Linked DNA regions of Homo sapiens. The protein of the gene in region 1 purifies or fractionates together with the protein of each later gene. This does not show direct contact. Each region holds a gene or a part of one and is shown on either strand. Other genes may lie near its edges.

Evidence for each region.
Region 2: the proteins of UGT1A10 (region 1) and GUSB purify together in Homo sapiens (affinity purification with mass spectrometry; one large-scale study listed by BioGRID and IntAct). This does not show direct contact.
Region 3: the proteins of UGT1A10 (region 1) and EVPL purify together in Homo sapiens (affinity purification with mass spectrometry, with the first as the bait; one large-scale study listed by BioGRID). This does not show direct contact.
Region 4: the proteins of UGT1A10 (region 1) and OLFM2 purify together in Homo sapiens (affinity purification with mass spectrometry; one large-scale study listed by BioGRID and IntAct). This does not show direct contact.

The regions. Positions count from the first base shown.
Region 1 is NC_000002.12:233,764,393-233,769,672, reverse strand, and holds part of UGT1A10 (UDP-glucuronosyltransferase 1A10 precursor), read right to left. Parts: intron 2,640-5,280; coding exon 2,508-2,639; intron 1,825-2,507; coding exon 1,737-1,824; intron 1,454-1,736; coding exon 1,234-1,453; intron 1-1,233. Other genes in the region: UGT1A1 (UDP-glucuronosyltransferase 1A1 precursor), read right to left, coding at 1,234-1,453, 1,737-1,824, 2,508-2,639; UGT1A3 (UDP-glucuronosyltransferase 1A3 precursor), read right to left, coding at 1,234-1,453, 1,737-1,824, 2,508-2,639; UGT1A4 (UDP-glucuronosyltransferase 1A4 precursor), read right to left, coding at 1,234-1,453, 1,737-1,824, 2,508-2,639; UGT1A5 (UDP-glucuronosyltransferase 1A5 precursor), read right to left, coding at 1,234-1,453, 1,737-1,824, 2,508-2,639; UGT1A6 (UDP-glucuronosyltransferase 1A6 isoform 1 precursor), read right to left, coding at 1,234-1,453, 1,737-1,824, 2,508-2,639; UGT1A7 (UDP-glucuronosyltransferase 1A7 precursor), read right to left, coding at 1,234-1,453, 1,737-1,824, 2,508-2,639; UGT1A9 (UDP-glucuronosyltransferase 1A9 precursor), read right to left, coding at 1,234-1,453, 1,737-1,824, 2,508-2,639; UGT1A8 (UDP-glucuronosyltransferase 1A8 precursor), read right to left, coding at 1,234-1,453, 1,737-1,824, 2,508-2,639.
Region 2 is NC_000007.14:65,975,714-65,979,213, reverse strand, and holds part of GUSB (beta-glucuronidase isoform 1 precursor), read left to right. Parts: intron 1-3,011; coding exon 3,012-3,199; intron 3,200-3,500. UniProt on the Homo sapiens protein: Plays an important role in the degradation of dermatan and keratan sulfates.
Region 3 is NC_000017.11:76,017,307-76,020,806, reverse strand, and holds part of EVPL (envoplakin), read left to right. Parts: intron 1-1,153; coding exon 1,154-1,279; intron 1,280-1,746; coding exon 1,747-1,893; intron 1,894-2,206; coding exon 2,207-2,361; intron 2,362-2,548; coding exon 2,549-2,646; coding exon of another isoform or gene 2,647-2,712; intron 2,713-2,895; coding exon 2,896-3,068; intron 3,069-3,500. UniProt on the Homo sapiens protein: Component of the cornified envelope of keratinocytes. May link the cornified envelope to desmosomes and intermediate filaments.
Region 4 is NC_000019.10:9,853,218-9,856,515, reverse strand, and holds the end of OLFM2 (noelin-2 isoform 2 precursor), read left to right. Parts: intron 1-1,652; coding exon 1,653-2,330; 3' UTR 2,331-2,798; downstream 2,799-3,298. UniProt on the Homo sapiens protein: Involved in transforming growth factor beta (TGF-beta)-induced smooth muscle differentiation.

The DNA.
Region 1 (5,280 bases):
ATTAGCACCTCAAAGGTGGGAAGTCAGTCATCAGTCCTCCCCTGTTGTCCCTTGCTCAAGCTGGTGTGTCCCCGTGTTCCGTCTCCTCTCATCTGAACATGCTCCAGCTCTTCACATCTGTCTTCCTGACTGCTGCTTCTTTCTAAAGGAGGTAACCATGGGAGAAAGCAATGGACACTCTCATAAACACACGCACACACACACACACGCATATGAATGCACACGTGTGCACCCACACATGAGCACAGCCACATGCACAAACGCACACGCACATATGCACACAGTATCTATTGTCGGATGAAATCTACCACTGGCCACCACTTCTTCCCATAAGGTTCTAATAAGCCTATTACCAGTGAGCTTGACAGTAATATACTAACTTTAATCCAGAAATCATTTGCCCTTTGAATCGTTTTCAGGGCCACATTTGAGCAAATTTTCCTTTGCTCTTATTCTAAGACTTTGTCTGTGATATCTTATAGCTCCTTCATTCATAAACTCCATGGACAAAATTTCTCACAGGTTCCAGTGCTGCAAAAAGCTGTACTTCTAAGCATTTGAGTTGTTTTTCTCTTAAAGATACTATGCTTCTTATAATGGAGTATTTCTTTCTGTGCAGGAAACTTATGGATCAGATGTCTATTATGGCAACTTTTTATGTAAATTGGAGTTTTAAATCTAATGGGGGAAATAAAATTCTAAATAAATTATATGATAAATTATATAGAAACTAAAGAATCCTTTTATAAAGTGAATAATAACCTCTAAATTATCTTATTTATAAATCCAGGTCAGACGCGCTGGCTCATGCCTGTAATCTCAGCACTTTGGCAGGCCGAGGCAGGTGGATCACCTGAAGTCAGGAGTTCAAGACCAGCCTGACAAACATGGTGAAACCCTTTCTCTACTAAAAAATACAAAAATTAACCGGGCGTGGTGGTGGACACCTGTAATCCCAGCTACACGGAGGCTGAGGCAGAACTGCTTGAACGTGGGAGGTGGAGGTTGCAGTAAGCCAAGATTGCACCACTGCACTCCAGCCTAGGTGACAGAGCAAGACTCCATCTCAAAAAAAAAAAAAAAAAAAAAAGAAGAAATAAAAATCCAGATTTTTATGTATTTGTTTTTATATTTGAAACAACGCTATTAAATGCTACGTAAATGTTTTCATATTTGAAACAATTTTATCATGAATGCCATGACCAAAGTATTCTTCTGTATCTTCTTTCTTACCTTTTGTCATTGATGACTGCTTTTAGAGCATTTTCTAAATCTTCAGAAGTCATTTCCAGAACATTCAGGGTCACTCCAGCTCCCTTAGTCTCCATGCGCTTTGCATTGTCCATCTGATCACCAAACAAGGGCATCATCACCATGGGAACGCCATTGCATATGCTTTCATAAACACCATGGGAACCAGCATGGGTGATAAAGGCACGGGTCATCGGGTGACCTGAGATGCAAAATAGGGAGGATGTCAGCAGTTACATCTCTGAGTTTCACAGCTGGACACATCTAGGTTCTGAAAACACTCCAAAGACTCAGTGTTACTCACATGCCCTTGCAGAAATTTGCAGAAGAAAATGTGGGTTGAGATACCCCACTAGATAAAAAGCAATGTAGGATATGTTGGCCATAATATTTTCAAGCTCAACAATCCTTTAGAATAGCTGTGCTTAAGCCATTTTCTTAATTTGACCCTGGTTTGACCTATACATCCAATCCGCCCAACATACCAAGCAGATCGTTTTGGGGTAGCCACTTAACAAGTATCGTGTTGTTCGCAAGATTCGATGGTCGGGTTCCAGTGTACCGCCACAGGACCTGGGAGGGGCAAAAAGAGCAGAACGTAAAGAAAGAACATAATATGATTAGAAAACAAATCTGCTATACTAACTAGAAAACAGGGGTCCTCTGAAGGAACAGTCTTTAACAGAGTGGGAGGATCAGTAACTGTGAAGGCTTCTGAGGACTGGCAACTTCCGGCATCTTGTTTTGGAGGTTTAGTTACAAGGGTGTATGCACTACGTGAATTTGTGATAATTTATCAAGCTGTGCACTTAGGATTTTTTCACTTTCCTGCACTTTAAGGGAAAGTTTGCTTAATGAAACAAGTGGATGCAGAACTATAAGAGCAGAAATGTAAGACATAAATTCAGTGTTCTAACCAACAGCTTTTTGGAGAAATACTTCTATTTAATATGAAGAAACAATATCCCATTTATTTTATTTTTAAATAAATTCTCCCTAATACACTTTTGAGTCTCTTAGAGAAAATGATACTTCTGAGTGTGGTGGATCATAGTTTAATAGAGTATTTGAGAGTCAAATTGAAAACAATGACAACAACCACAACAACAAAAAAAACCTTTGGATTAATAGTTGGGAAGTGGCAGGGAAAAGCCAAATCTAAGGTTCCAATTAAGAGAATTAATCTGGAAGCTGGAAGTCTGGGATTAGCGCTCCTGTGAAAATAGATATGAGGCCATGGTATAGAATCTTCTTACTGTCTGAGGGATTTTGCCCAAAGCATCAGCAATTGCCATAGCTTTCTTCTCTGGAATTTCTGAGACCATTGATCCCAAAGAGAAAACCACAATTCCATGTTCTCCAGAAGCATTAATGTAGGCTTCAAATTCCTAGAGCCAGAAGAAAAATTTTCAGTTAATTTTTTCTCATATTCTTTGATGACTACATACAGTAAGTTATGAATTAGATATCTTCCTCTTAAGACTATGATTAAAGGCATGCGTGTTTGAGATAGAGTAAAAAATTATTAATATGTAAGTTTTACAGCATTTTCCTCTCCTTTACTTCCTTCTAAAGGAGGAAGGGTTCCTGCTTACAGAATTATCCTTGAGATGCAAAATCCAGGTAATGTGCTAGTTTTCCAAAAGAAAAGCACAGGTACATGCACACACATGCACACACCTGTACATACACACAGTGATAATTCCACTTAGAGAACACAGAGCAAGGCATCAGTGATACAGAAGGGAAGAGCTGGGAAGGGCGTGGTCCCTTTAAATGATATGGAAGTAGGGAAGGGAAGTGCTGGGTAGAAGAGGGTGTGGTCCCTGGCGAGGGCTCCACCCCCAGACCTGTGCCCATGGACCTAGGTGAGGACAGGCATTTTTGTTTTCCTGCCTAAATGTTTCATTTCCCAAAACCACCCTGGCCTGCCACGCCCCCATCATGTGCCTATAAAAACCCCAAGACCCTAGCAGGCAGACACACAGGTAGCTGGACATCGGGAGGAGCACATCAGCGGAGGGACGCAAGGACAGCTGGACATTGAGAAGAACTCACCAACAGGCACCGGCAGGCCACTGACCAGCAGAACAACGCGGAGTTTGGCTGAGGCAGTCGGAGGAGAGCCCAGGCCACCGAGCCCGGGCCACCGAGCCCGGGCCACTGAGCGGTCTGACTCCAGGGGAAACCCTTCCCATTCCATCCCCTTCTGGCTTCCCCCATCTGCTGAGAGCTACATCCACTCAATAAATCCTTGCACTCATTCTCCAAGCCCAGGTGGGATTCGATTCTTCTGGTACACCAAGGCAAGCCCCCAGGATACAGAAAGCCCTCTGTCCTTGCGACAAGGTAGAGGGTGTAATTGAGCTGGTTAACACAAGCTGACTATAGAGGGCAAAACTAAAAGAAGGCCATAACCCACGCCCACTGGAGCTTCAGGAGCTGTAAACATCCACCTCTAGACACTGCCGGTGAGGTCAGAGCCCCACAACCTGCCCGTCTGTATGCTCCCCTAGAGGTTTGAGCAGTGGCGCACTGAGAAAGTGAGCCCCTCCCGCTGTCACATGCTCTGTGAGGGGGACAAGGAAAGTTTTCCTGTTTCATCAACATGGCAATTCTTTTCTCACTGTAGATTTTCAGTGGTCCAATGAATCCCCCAAGAATCTCTCAAATGGCTTTATGGGTTTATTTATTATTATTATTATTATTAATTATTATTATTATTATTTACTTGAAGTTCTGGGATACATATGCCATGGTGGTTTGCTGCACCTATTGACCTATCCTCTAAGTTCCTCCCCTCACCCCTCACCCCGCCACAAGCCCTGGTGTGTGTTGTTCCCCTCCCTGCGTCTACGCATTCTCACTGTTCAACTCCCACTTATGAGTGAGAACATGCGGTGTTTGATTTTCTGTTCCTGTGTTAGTTTGTGGAGGATGATGGCTTCCAGCTTCATCCATGTCCTTGCAAAGAATATGATCTCATTCCTTGTTATGGCTGCATAGTATTCCATGGTGTATATGTACCACATTTTCTTTATCCAATCTACCATTGATGGGCATCTGGGTTGGTTCCATGACTTTGTTATTGTGAATAGTGCTGCAATAAACAAATATGTGCATGTGTCTTTATAGTAGAATAATTTATATTTCTTTGGGTATATACCCAGTAATGGGATTACTGAGTCTATGGTTTTATGTTTGCAAAGAATACTGAGGGCACTAATATGATTGTGTGATGTGGCAGGGCTTGCCCAAACTGAGGGGTTCCCTAGGACATGTGATGTTCAGTGCTAAAACCTGAACAGTCCTGAGGAAGCCAGGATGCTGGTCACCCTAGATGTGAGACACAGGAGACCTCTGACAGGGCTCAGCAAACGCAATTTGCACAGCAGGACTCCTGCCAAGCCTGATTTGGAACATGACCAGGAAAGCCCCAGACACTGACCATCCTTCTCCCAAGGTGAGCCCTCTCTCCCCGCCACTCTCACCAGCCCCAGGCCCTCGTGAGTCCTCTGGCTCTTAAGGGCTTTGTCTTTGCCTTTTCCCTTGGGCTCATCTAAAAGTCAGGGAGGACAGAGTCATCCTCCCCACCACCATGCTGCATTTTTTGGTTTGTAGCAAGAACACCCTGAGGATGGTTTTTCTGAACTCCTTCCTCCCTAGGGTCTGCACCACATCTCTCCCCTCTTTCTCTCCCTCTTTCTTGGGGAGACACAGCTCATTTCCAAGTGCTCTTCAAGTTCTTTCTTCTGAGCGTTGGTAAATGGCTTACTTAAATTTCCTAGGACCTTTGCTCTTCATGAAACCCACTCTTACACTGAAGCTCATCTGGAAAAGGCCGAGTCTAAGTTCTCCTCCAGGCACACCCTCCCACACGCCCACTCAGCAATCAGCAGGATGTGATTCACACAAAATTGAACCCACAGGTCCATAAACATTCGAAGTTAAATAGCAGGAGATCACGAAAGTTTAAATGGCACAAAAGTTCATCTGGAGATTCACGCAGGGCAAACTGCAGAGAAGTTG
Region 2 (3,500 bases), on another chromosome or scaffold:
TTGACCTCGCTAGGAGAAGAGGGGTCTGGCCTAACGTCACACAGCTCGGGGTGGCAATCCTGTCCCTTCTCTATGGTGCTACTCTCACTCCATCTCCCCTTGCTACACATCGTGCTCAAGGAACAGGCAGCTTCGGTGGGGGGGGCGCCGGGCATGGTGGCTTATGCCTGTCATCCAGCACTTTGCAAGGAGGCCCTGGTATAAGGATCACTTGAGGCCAGTAGTTCAAGAGCAGCCTGGGCAACATAGTGAGGCCATCACCACAAAAAATTAAAAAATTAGCCAGGGATGGTGATGTGTGCCGGTAGTCCCAGCTGCTGAGGCAGGAGAATCACTTGAGCCTGGGATGTCAAGGGTGCAGTGAGCTATGACCACACCACTGCACTCTGGTCTGGGCAACAGACGCAGACCCTGTCTTTCTTTTTTTCTTCTTTTTTTTTTTTGAGCTGGAGTCTCGCTCTGTCGCCAGGCTGGAGTGCGATGGCGTGATCTTGGCTCACTGCAACCTCTGCCTCCCGGGTTCAAGCGATTCTCCTGCCTCAGCCTCCCGAGTAACTGGGATTATAGGCACCCGCCACCACGCCCGGCTAATTTTTCTATTTTTTTTTAGTAGAGACAGGGTTTCACTCTATTGGCCTGACTGGTCTTGAACTCCTAACCTCAGGTGATCCACCCTCCTCGGCCTGCCAAAATGCAAGGGTTACAGGCGTGAGCCACTGTGCCCAGCTGGGATACCCTGTTTTTTTTGTTTTTGTTTTTTGTTTTTGAGATGGAGTCTTGCTCTGTTGTCCAGGCTGGAGTGCTGTGGCGTGTTCTTGGCTCACTGCAACCTCCGCCTCCCGGGTTCAAACAATTCTCTTGCCTCAGCCTCCTGAGCAGCTGGGATTACAGGCGTGTGCCACCACGTCCAGCTAATTTTTGTATTTTTAGTAGAGATGGGGTTTCACCATGTTGGCCAGGCTGGTTCAACTCCTGACTTCGGGATCCACCCGCCTCAGTCTCCCAAAATGCTGGGATTACAGGAATGAGCCACAGCGCTCGGTCTGTATTTAAGAAAAATTTTTGTTTTAAGTTTTTTTTCTTTTTAAAAATATATCTTTTTCAGGGCGGGCGCGGTGGCTCATGCCTGTAATCCCAGCACTTTGGGAGGCCAAGGTGGGGGGATCACGAGGTCAGGAGATCGCGACCATCCTGACTAACATGGTGAAACTCCGTCTCTACTAAAAATGCAAAAAATTAGCCGGGCATGGTGGCAGGGGCCTGTAGTCCCAGCGACTCGGGAGGCTGAGGCAGGAGAATGGCGTGAACCTGGGAGGCAGAGCTTGCAGTGAGCTGAGATTGCATCACTGCACTCCAGCCTAGGGGACAGAGCGAGACTCCATGTCAAAAAATAAAAATAAAAAAATATATATATATCTTTTTCTTTTTCTGAGATGAGGCTTGCACTGTGGCCCAGGCTGGAGTGCAGTGGTGAGATTATTGACAGCCGTTGTGGGGCCGCGGTTCTAAGTTTAAAAGAATTTAGGCTGGGTGTGGTGGCTAATGCCTGTCATCCCAGCACTTTGGGAGTCCAAGGTGGATGGATCGCTTTAGCTGCAAAGTTTGAGACCAGCCTGGGCAACATACTGAGACCCTATCTAAGAAAAAAATAAATAAATAAAATAAAATAAATGAATAAAAAAGAATTTAAAAAAGAATCCCACAGCAAAGACAATGCACCATAGAGCAATTTATTGCCAAGGAAAGGTATTTTGGAAGTTAAGTTTAGAACAGCCTGGGTGCACTGGCTCATGCCTGTAATCCCAGCACTTTTGGAGGCCGAGATGGGTGGATCACTTGAGCTCAGAAGTTCAAACCAGCTTAGCCAACATTAGCTGGACATTGTGGTGTGAGCCTGCAATCCCGGCTACTCAGGAGGTTGAGATGGGAGAATTGTTTGAACCCGGGAGGTGGAGGTTGCAGTCAGCTGAGATTGCAACACTGCACTCCAGCCTAGGTGACAGAGTGACACCCCCATCTCAAAAAAAATAGTGAAGTGCAAAATGCACAGTTCACCCTGAGACACAGAATTCAGGACAGGCTGCTCGTAAGGATGAGACAGCACCGATTATTACTGGGGAAACTCCCTTTCTGGGAGTCTTCCGTGATGAATTCCTAAGGAGCTGGGAAGAGGTGTTACTGTAAGCACGTTCTGGGCCGTCCTCTGGTTGCACATGCGTAGTAGCTGTACATGCTTGTTCACACGTCACGTGTCTCAGTGCCGTGGTTGGCATGTCTGAGGGACACGGTCACTTCCTTGACTACCTATCCTGCCTCAAGATCATAGCTCACTGCAGCCCCGAACTCCTGGCTCAAGCAATCCTCCCACTTCAGCCTCCCAAGTAGCTGGGGCTGCCGGGGCTGCAAGCACGCACCACCACGACCGGCTGATTGTTTGTATTTTTAGGGAAGAAGTGGTTTCCCTATGTTACCCAGGCTGGTCTTGAACTCCTGGTCTCAAGCGATCCTCCCACCCCAGCCTCCTCAAGTGTTGGGATTACAGGTGTGACCACTGCACCTGGCCAAAATCTTTTTTTAAATTAAAAAAAGCACCGGGTGCGGTGGCTCACACCTGTAATCCCAGCACTTTGGGAGGCCAAGGCGGGTGGATCACCTGAGGTCAGGGGTTCAAGACCAGCCTGGCCAATATGACAAAACCCATCTCTACTAAAAATATAAAAATTCGCCAAGCATGGTGGTGCACGTCTATAATCCCAGGTACTTGGGAGGCTGAGACAGGAGAATCACCTGAACCCCAGAGGTGGAGGTTGCAGTGAGCCGAGATCATGCCACTGCACTCCAGCCTGGGGGACAGAGTGAGACTCCGTCTCAAAAAAAAAAAATAAGAAATTAAATTTAAAAAAAGCAACAGAAACAAATGGCTGCCTGGCAGCGGTGGCTGCAGGGCGCTCCTGTTTGTGTGACTCAGGTCGTGTCCCTCCCTCAGCCCTGGTCTCTCTTGTTTCTTGCAGGGCTGGTGAATTACCAGATCTCTGTCAAGGGCAGTAACCTGTTCAAGTTGGAAGTGCGTCTTTTGGATGCAGAAAACAAAGTCGTGGCGAATGGGACTGGGACCCAGGGCCAACTTAAGGTGCCAGGTGTCAGCCTCTGGTGGCCGTACCTGATGCACGAACGCCCTGCCTATCTGTATTCATTGGAGGTAATGGTGGTTTGGGACATGCCTAAGGGAGGTCTTTTGCCCCCATGTGGTGACCCTGGCTTCAGCAGGAGCCCAAGACAGGTGGATGGGCAGGCATGGTCCTCTGAGCTTTCTGATGTTTCTCACCCTTGGTGGGAGGCCCATTTTCTTTTTTTTTTTTTTTTTTGAGATGGTCTCACTCTGTCACCCAGGCTGGAGTGCAATGGCCTGATCACAGCTCACTGCAGCCTTGAACTCTCAGCCTGCAGCAGTCCTCCTGCCTTGGCCTCCTGAGTAGCTGGGACTACAGGCACATGCCACC
Region 3 (3,500 bases), on another chromosome or scaffold:
GCCAGGAGAATTGCTTGACACCAGTAGTTCCAGACCAGCCTGGGCAACATAGCAAGACCCTGTCTCTATACAAATAGATACATCTCTATCAAAATAAATAAATAAATAAAATTTTATGGGGATGAGGTGGGGGGAAATTAAATAAAATATTTCTTAAAAGGCTCTTTAGGAGAATAATAATGAAAAAAAAAACGGTTGAGAAACCCTGATATAATATGCAACTGGGATTTGGGGGCAGATAATGTTTCATACATTTTCCTATAGAACCACAAGACTGTGATCACACACGTTGACAAAAATTCCGTCAAAGCACCTGGAATGCTTCTTTAAAGCACAGCTTCTTCTCCGGGGCTGGGACAAGTGCAGCTCCAATACCCTCTGTCCCAGCAAGAAAGACTTCAGGTGCTGGAGGGAGGCAGGTGACGGTGCCCTTCATTTGTGCAGGAAGGACGAAGACCAAGTGTTTTATGACCCACTTAAAAAAATTAAGTTCAGTGCACAAATAAGACCCCATTTGCAAGAGCACACCAGTGATAAAAGGTCCTGCCGCCTGGGTAGGAAAAAGAAAGACCGACCAGAGTAGGGGAGAGTGACAGTTTAGGTTTAGCTGGTTTAAGTTTAGCTGGTTTAGGTTTATCTGGTTTAAGTTTATCTGGTTTGTGTTTAGCTGGTTTAGGTTTATCTGGTTTAAGTTTATCTGGTTTGTGTTTAGCTGGTTTAGGTTTAGCTGGTTTAGGTTTATCTGGTTTAAGTTTATCTGGTTTGTGTTTAGCTGGTTTAGGTTTAGCTGGTTTAGGTTTATCTGGTTTGTGTTTGGCTGGTTTAGGTTTAGCTGGTTTCGGTTTAGGTGGTTTGTGTTTAGCTGGTTTAGATTTAGCTGGTTTAAGTTTAGCTGGTTTAGGTTTACCTGGCTTAGGTTTTTCTGGTTTAGGTTTAGCTGATTTGTGTTTAGTTGGTTTAGGTTTAGCTGGCTTAGCGGTTACTGGTTTAGTTTAGCTGTTTCACATTTATCTGGTTTGTGTTTAGCTGGTTTGTGTTTAGCTGGTTTAGGTTTAGCTGCTTTGTGTTTAGCTGGCTTAGGTTCAGCTGGTTTGTAGGGTCAGTGGGCAGCAGGTTGCACGAGGCTCTGCCCTTGACCACCCAGTGAACTCAGTTCCAGGAAGAGGCCGACTCAGTCAGCCAGACCCTGGCGAAGCTCAACTCCAACTTGGATGCCAAGTACAGCCCTGCACCTGGGGGCCCCCCTGGCGCCCCCACAGAGCTGCTGCAACAGCTGGAGGTGAGACAACCCCACCAGGCCGTCTGCACCCCACTTCTGGGAATTGGTCCTGTCCATTTTTCTGGGCCTCACCCCTTCTGCCTTGGTACCTAGTCCTATCCCAAGCCCTGGCCTGGGTGCTGGCAGGGGGGTTTACTCTAGCAGGAGGCTGGCCAGGTACCAGCAAGCTCCTCCCACTTCTGGACGTCAGTTTCCTCATTTGCAGTGGGACAAGGGCAGCCTGGGAGAGCTCTGAGGCCTGTCTAGCTTCTGCTTGGTGGCCTGGGTGATGCTGTGCCATCCCCCTCCCTGCAACTAGCAGATCCCAGGATCCTAGGTCCCCCAGAGAGGGGCTCCTTTTACTTTGCTGACTTAGAGACCCCTGCCTTCATGAAGGCCAGCCTCTAGGCCTTTTGAAGGACAGGTATGGTGTGGCCAGCCTCCAATGCAGCCTGGCCTGAGTCCCCCACTGCCTGGGCCCCCGGCAGGCAGAGGAAAAACGGCTGGCCGTCACCGAGAGGGCCACTGGGGACCTGCAGCGGCGAAGCCGGGATGTGGCCCCTCTGCCACAGCGAAGAAACCCCCCTCAGCAGCCCCTGCACGTGGACAGCATCTGCGACTGGGACTCAGGAGAAGTGCGAACTCCCCCACCTCACCCCTGCCACCATCCAGCCCCGCCCAACCCATCCCCTGCCCCTGCCCAAGCCCATCCCTGCTCCATCCCCAGCTGTCTCCTGCGCCCACTTTTGCCCTACTCCTTCCCTTGACTCAGACCCTCCTCTCTCCAAGTCCTGTCCTGCCTCTTTTCTACCCCAGCACCTCCCACCCTACTCTTGTCCCTGTTCCAGCTGCTGTCCCCATTTGTCTCTGTCCCCAGCCCCTACTCTGCCCTGGCCTTGGCCCCCTGCCCCTGAGCCCTCAGGAGCTGCTCCCTTTCTGTGCCCCCAGGTGCAGCTGCTGCAGGGTGAGCGGTATAAGCTGGTAGATAACACTGACCCGCACGCCTGGGTCGTGCAGGGCCCTGGCGGGGAGACCAAGCGTGCTCCCGCCGCCTGCTTCTGCATCCCAGCACCAGACCCTGATGCTGTGGCCAGGGCCTCCCGGTAGGTCTGTGTAGGGATACTCAGGGGCAGGCTGTGGGCAGAGCAGGCCGGCCCTGCGGTGTCCAAGCCCATGGCCCAACAGACCCCTGCTCAAAGGCTGGCCTTCACCTGAAGCTGCGTCTACTGGGGCTGGGGAGGGAGAGAGGCAGAGTGGGGACCTCTTTCTTCAATCTCCTCTTCATTCTAGGCTGGCCTCAGAGCTGCAGGCCCTGAAGCAGAAATTGGCCACAGTCCAGAGCCGCCTGAAGGCCAGTGCTGTGGAGTCTCTTCGGCCCAGCCAGCAGGGTACCCAGGGTGGCCCGGGGAGAGGTGGCTGTGGGGCTAGAAGGAGTAGATTCCGACTTCCGACTGGTCTGTGATGGGCAGGGGTCGCCTTGGGTTAGGGACCATCACTCTGGGGATTTCATCTCTGGGGTGGCCCTGCCCATCCCCTCCACCCTACCCCGACAGGACCCTCTGTGGGCACCTGGTGGGGGCACCTATCTGGCAGTCTGGAGATAGGCCCTGGGCCCTCACCAGCACCTCTGCCCCCAGCTCCATCTGGCTCAGACCTGGCCAACCCACAGGCCCAGAAGCTCCTGACACAGATGACCCGGCTGGATGGAGACCTGGGACAGATAGAGAGGCAGGTGCTGGCCTGGGCGCGGGCCCCGCTGAGCCGCCCCACACCCTTGGAGGACTTGGAGGGCCGCATCCACAGCCATGAGGTGGGTGAGCAGCGGGAAGGGGCGGCTGGGATGAGAAGCGGCCCGGCCCTGGTGCTCACACTTGAGGGAGGTGAGGCAAGTGCAGGAGCGGTGGCTGGGATGGAGATGGAGAAGGGTGTGGACAGACCCGGGCTCAGACAAGCTGGTTCCCCTCCTGGCTCCTCCACTGACCAGCTCCAGGATCTTGGACTACATAACTCTCTGGGCCTTGGTTTCCTCATCCCTGAAGCAGATGTAATAATGCCCAGCTCGCCTGATCATTCAGGAAGGTTCCAGTAGGGCCCAATGTCAACACCCCAGGAGGTATTCTGGTGAAGCTCCTGAAATAGCAAGGAAGCCTGGAGAATCTTAGGAAGAGATGTCCCCTGGCTGCAAGGGGGAGCCTACCTGGGGAGGTTGCAGCATTGTGTAAACTCCTTACCCAAGAACAGC
Region 4 (3,298 bases), on another chromosome or scaffold:
ATGCCCTCCCAAGGACAAGAGACCTCTTCCACCAAGCACTGCTCAGTGACCTTCGGACTTCTAGTAGCTTCCATGGTCATGACTGCCCATCACTTAGACACACAAGAACCATCCATGAGGCTGGGCATGGTGGCTCATGCCTGTAATCCCAGCACTTTGGGAGGCTGAGGTGGGCGGATCACCTGAGGTCGGGAGTTCGAGACCAGCCTGACCAACATGGAGAAACCCTGTCTCTACTAAAAATACAAAATTAGCCGGACATGGTGGTGCATGCCTGTAATCCCAGCTACTCGGGAGGCTGAGGCAGGAGAATCACTTGAACCCTGGAGGCAGAGGTTGCAGTGAGCCAAGATCGCACCATTGCACTGCAGCCTGGGCAACACGAGTGAAACTCTGTCTCAAAACAAAACAAAACAAAAACAACAACAAATGCTAGTTAACATGATGACAACAATGATGTTGATGACACGCCTGGTCACCTCATGGTGACAGGGGTTAGTTAACCATGGCAGTGAATTCAAGTGATGTCTTATCATTCAATGGCTGTCCAGTGACCACTAACCACCCAATATTCAATGACCAGGGAATTCCTGGGCCCAGTGACTCCCCAGGGGCTGCAGTTCCCTGGGTCCTTTGGGATGGAGCATTGTCCACTTAGGGTCTGTTTTAAGATCAATAGTGGCCAGGTGCAGTGGCTCACGCCTGTAATCCCAGCACTTTAGGAGGCCGAGGCAGGCAGATCACTTGAGCTCAGGAGTTTGAGACTAGCCTGGGCAACATTGCGAGACCTTGTCTCTACTAAAGATACAATAAATAAGCTGGGCGTGGTGACTTGTGCCTGTAGTCCCTGCTATTCCGGGGGGCTGAGGTGAGAGGATTGCTTGAGCCTGGGAGGTCGAGGCTGCAGTGAGCCGTGATTGTGCCACTGCCCGCCAGCCTGGGAAAAACAGTGAGACTTTGTTTCAAAAGAAAAAAAAAGGCCAGGCGTGGTGGCTCATGCCTGTAATCCCAGCACTTTGGGAGGCTGAGACAGTGGATCACAAGGTCGGGAGTTTGAGACCAGCCTGACCAACATGGTGAAACCCCATCTCTACTAAAAATACAAAAATTAGCCGGGTGTGGTGGGATGCGCCTGTAATCCCAGCTACTCAGGAGGCTGAGGCAGGAGAATCACTTGAACCTGGGAGGCGGAGGTTGCAGTGAGCTGAGATCACGCCACTGTACTCCAGCCTGGGCAACAGAGAGGGACTCCATCTCAAAAAAAAAAAAAAAAATTACTTAAAAAAAAAAAAGACCAATAGCACTCACTGGGATTTGGGTCCTACTGGGGCCATGCAGTTCCCCAAGAAACTGCAGCCCCTGGGGACTCACTGGGCCCAGGAATTCCCTGGTCATTGGATATTGGGTGGTTAGTGGTCACTGGACAGCCATTGAGTGATAAGACGTCACTTGAATTCACTGCCCATGGTTAATGCTGTCACCAGGAGATGATCATGGTCACACTAGGGCCATAATTGGTAATGAATGGTCAACAGAGTTCCCATGACTAATGACCACTTAGTGACTGTTGAACTCTAATGGCTGTAGCTGGTGCTGGGACCCTTGGGTCGTTGGTGGTGGTTCCCCCCAGTGACCAGCGGCTGCTACCATAGGTCTGGTACATGGATGGCTATTACAAAGGCCGCCGGGTCCTGGAGTTCCGTACCCTGGGAGACTTCATCAAAGGCCAGAACTTTATCCAGCACCTGCTGCCCCAGCCGTGGGCGGGCACGGGCCACGTGGTGTACAACGGCTCCCTGTTCTATAACAAGTACCAGAGCAACGTGGTGGTCAAATACCACTTCCGCTCGCGCTCTGTGCTGGTGCAGAGGAGCCTCCCGGGCGCCGGTTACAACAACACCTTCCCCTACTCCTGGGGCGGCTTCTCCGACATGGACTTCATGGTGGACGAGAGCGGGCTCTGGGCTGTGTACACCACCAACCAGAACGCGGGCAACATCGTGGTCAGCCGGCTGGACCCGCACACCCTCGAGGTCATGCGGTCCTGGGACACCGGCTACCCCAAGCGCAGCGCTGGCGAGGCCTTCATGATCTGCGGTGTGCTCTACGTGACCAACTCCCACCTGGCTGGGGCCAAGGTCTACTTCGCCTATTTTACCAACACGTCCAGTTACGAGTACACGGACGTGCCCTTCCACAACCAGTATTCCCACATCTCGATGCTGGATTACAACCCCCGGGAGCGCGCCCTCTATACCTGGAACAACGGCCACCAGGTGCTCTACAATGTCACCCTGTTTCACGTCATCAGCACCTCTGGGGACCCCTGAGCCAATGCTGTGGCTCGGGCTGCTGCCTGGGGGGCCTCTGGGGGCTGGGGGCCCTTTTCATTCTGCCTGTGTCCCTCAAGGGTGATCTCTCTGTCTCTGTCACGCCCTTTCTCCCCGCCTTTTTGCTGGGCTTTTGTTCTCTGCCTATGTATTTCTGTCTATTTTTTCAATTTCCCCTCTTCTCCTTTATTGATCTCTGCTTTTAATACACCACTTCTTTCTTTCTGCCTTTTTATGGATGTCTTTTTCTTTTTATGGCTCTGGTTCTCCAGTTCTTTCCGTCTCTGCCTCTCTCTGTCTCTCTCTCTCTGTCCTTCCACCCCTCCCTCCTTGCTTCCCACCCATTCCTCATCCCTCACTCCCACCCCCACCCCCACCCCCAGGAGTTGAGTGCATGGATCTGTTTCTTTTTTTATTTACACTTTTTCTTTCCGGTTTGCCGGAATAAACAGGACCTTTGACATTTGACGCTTCGGTGACTGTGTGTGTCCAATGGCGACAGAGGTGGAGGTGGCCCCGAAGTCCAAGCCTGGAGACCCATCTCCAGTGAGGATCCCCTTATTCCATGACTCAAGCTTAAGCGAACTGGGGGGAAGGGGTTCCCCAGGGCCAGCCCTTTGGGGAGATGGGTGAGGAGACCCAATCCAAAGTTGTTTTGATCGAAAGCAATTCGTTTAAAAGCAGTTTGATCAAAACAACCGAGAATTCTAGCACAGCAATGAAAACTGGCCTCAAATGAGTATTCTCCCGTCACTGGATTGCCACTCTGCAATCACTGTTGATGCATTACTAAGAGGTCTGGAATTTTTTTTTTCTTTTTTTTTTTTTTGAGACAGTCTTGCTCTGTCACCCACGCTGGAGTGCAGTGGCATGATCTCAGCTCACTGCAACCTCCACCTCCCAGGTTCACACGATTCGCGTGCCTGAGCCTTCCGAGTAGCTGGGATTACAGGCACGCACCACCATGC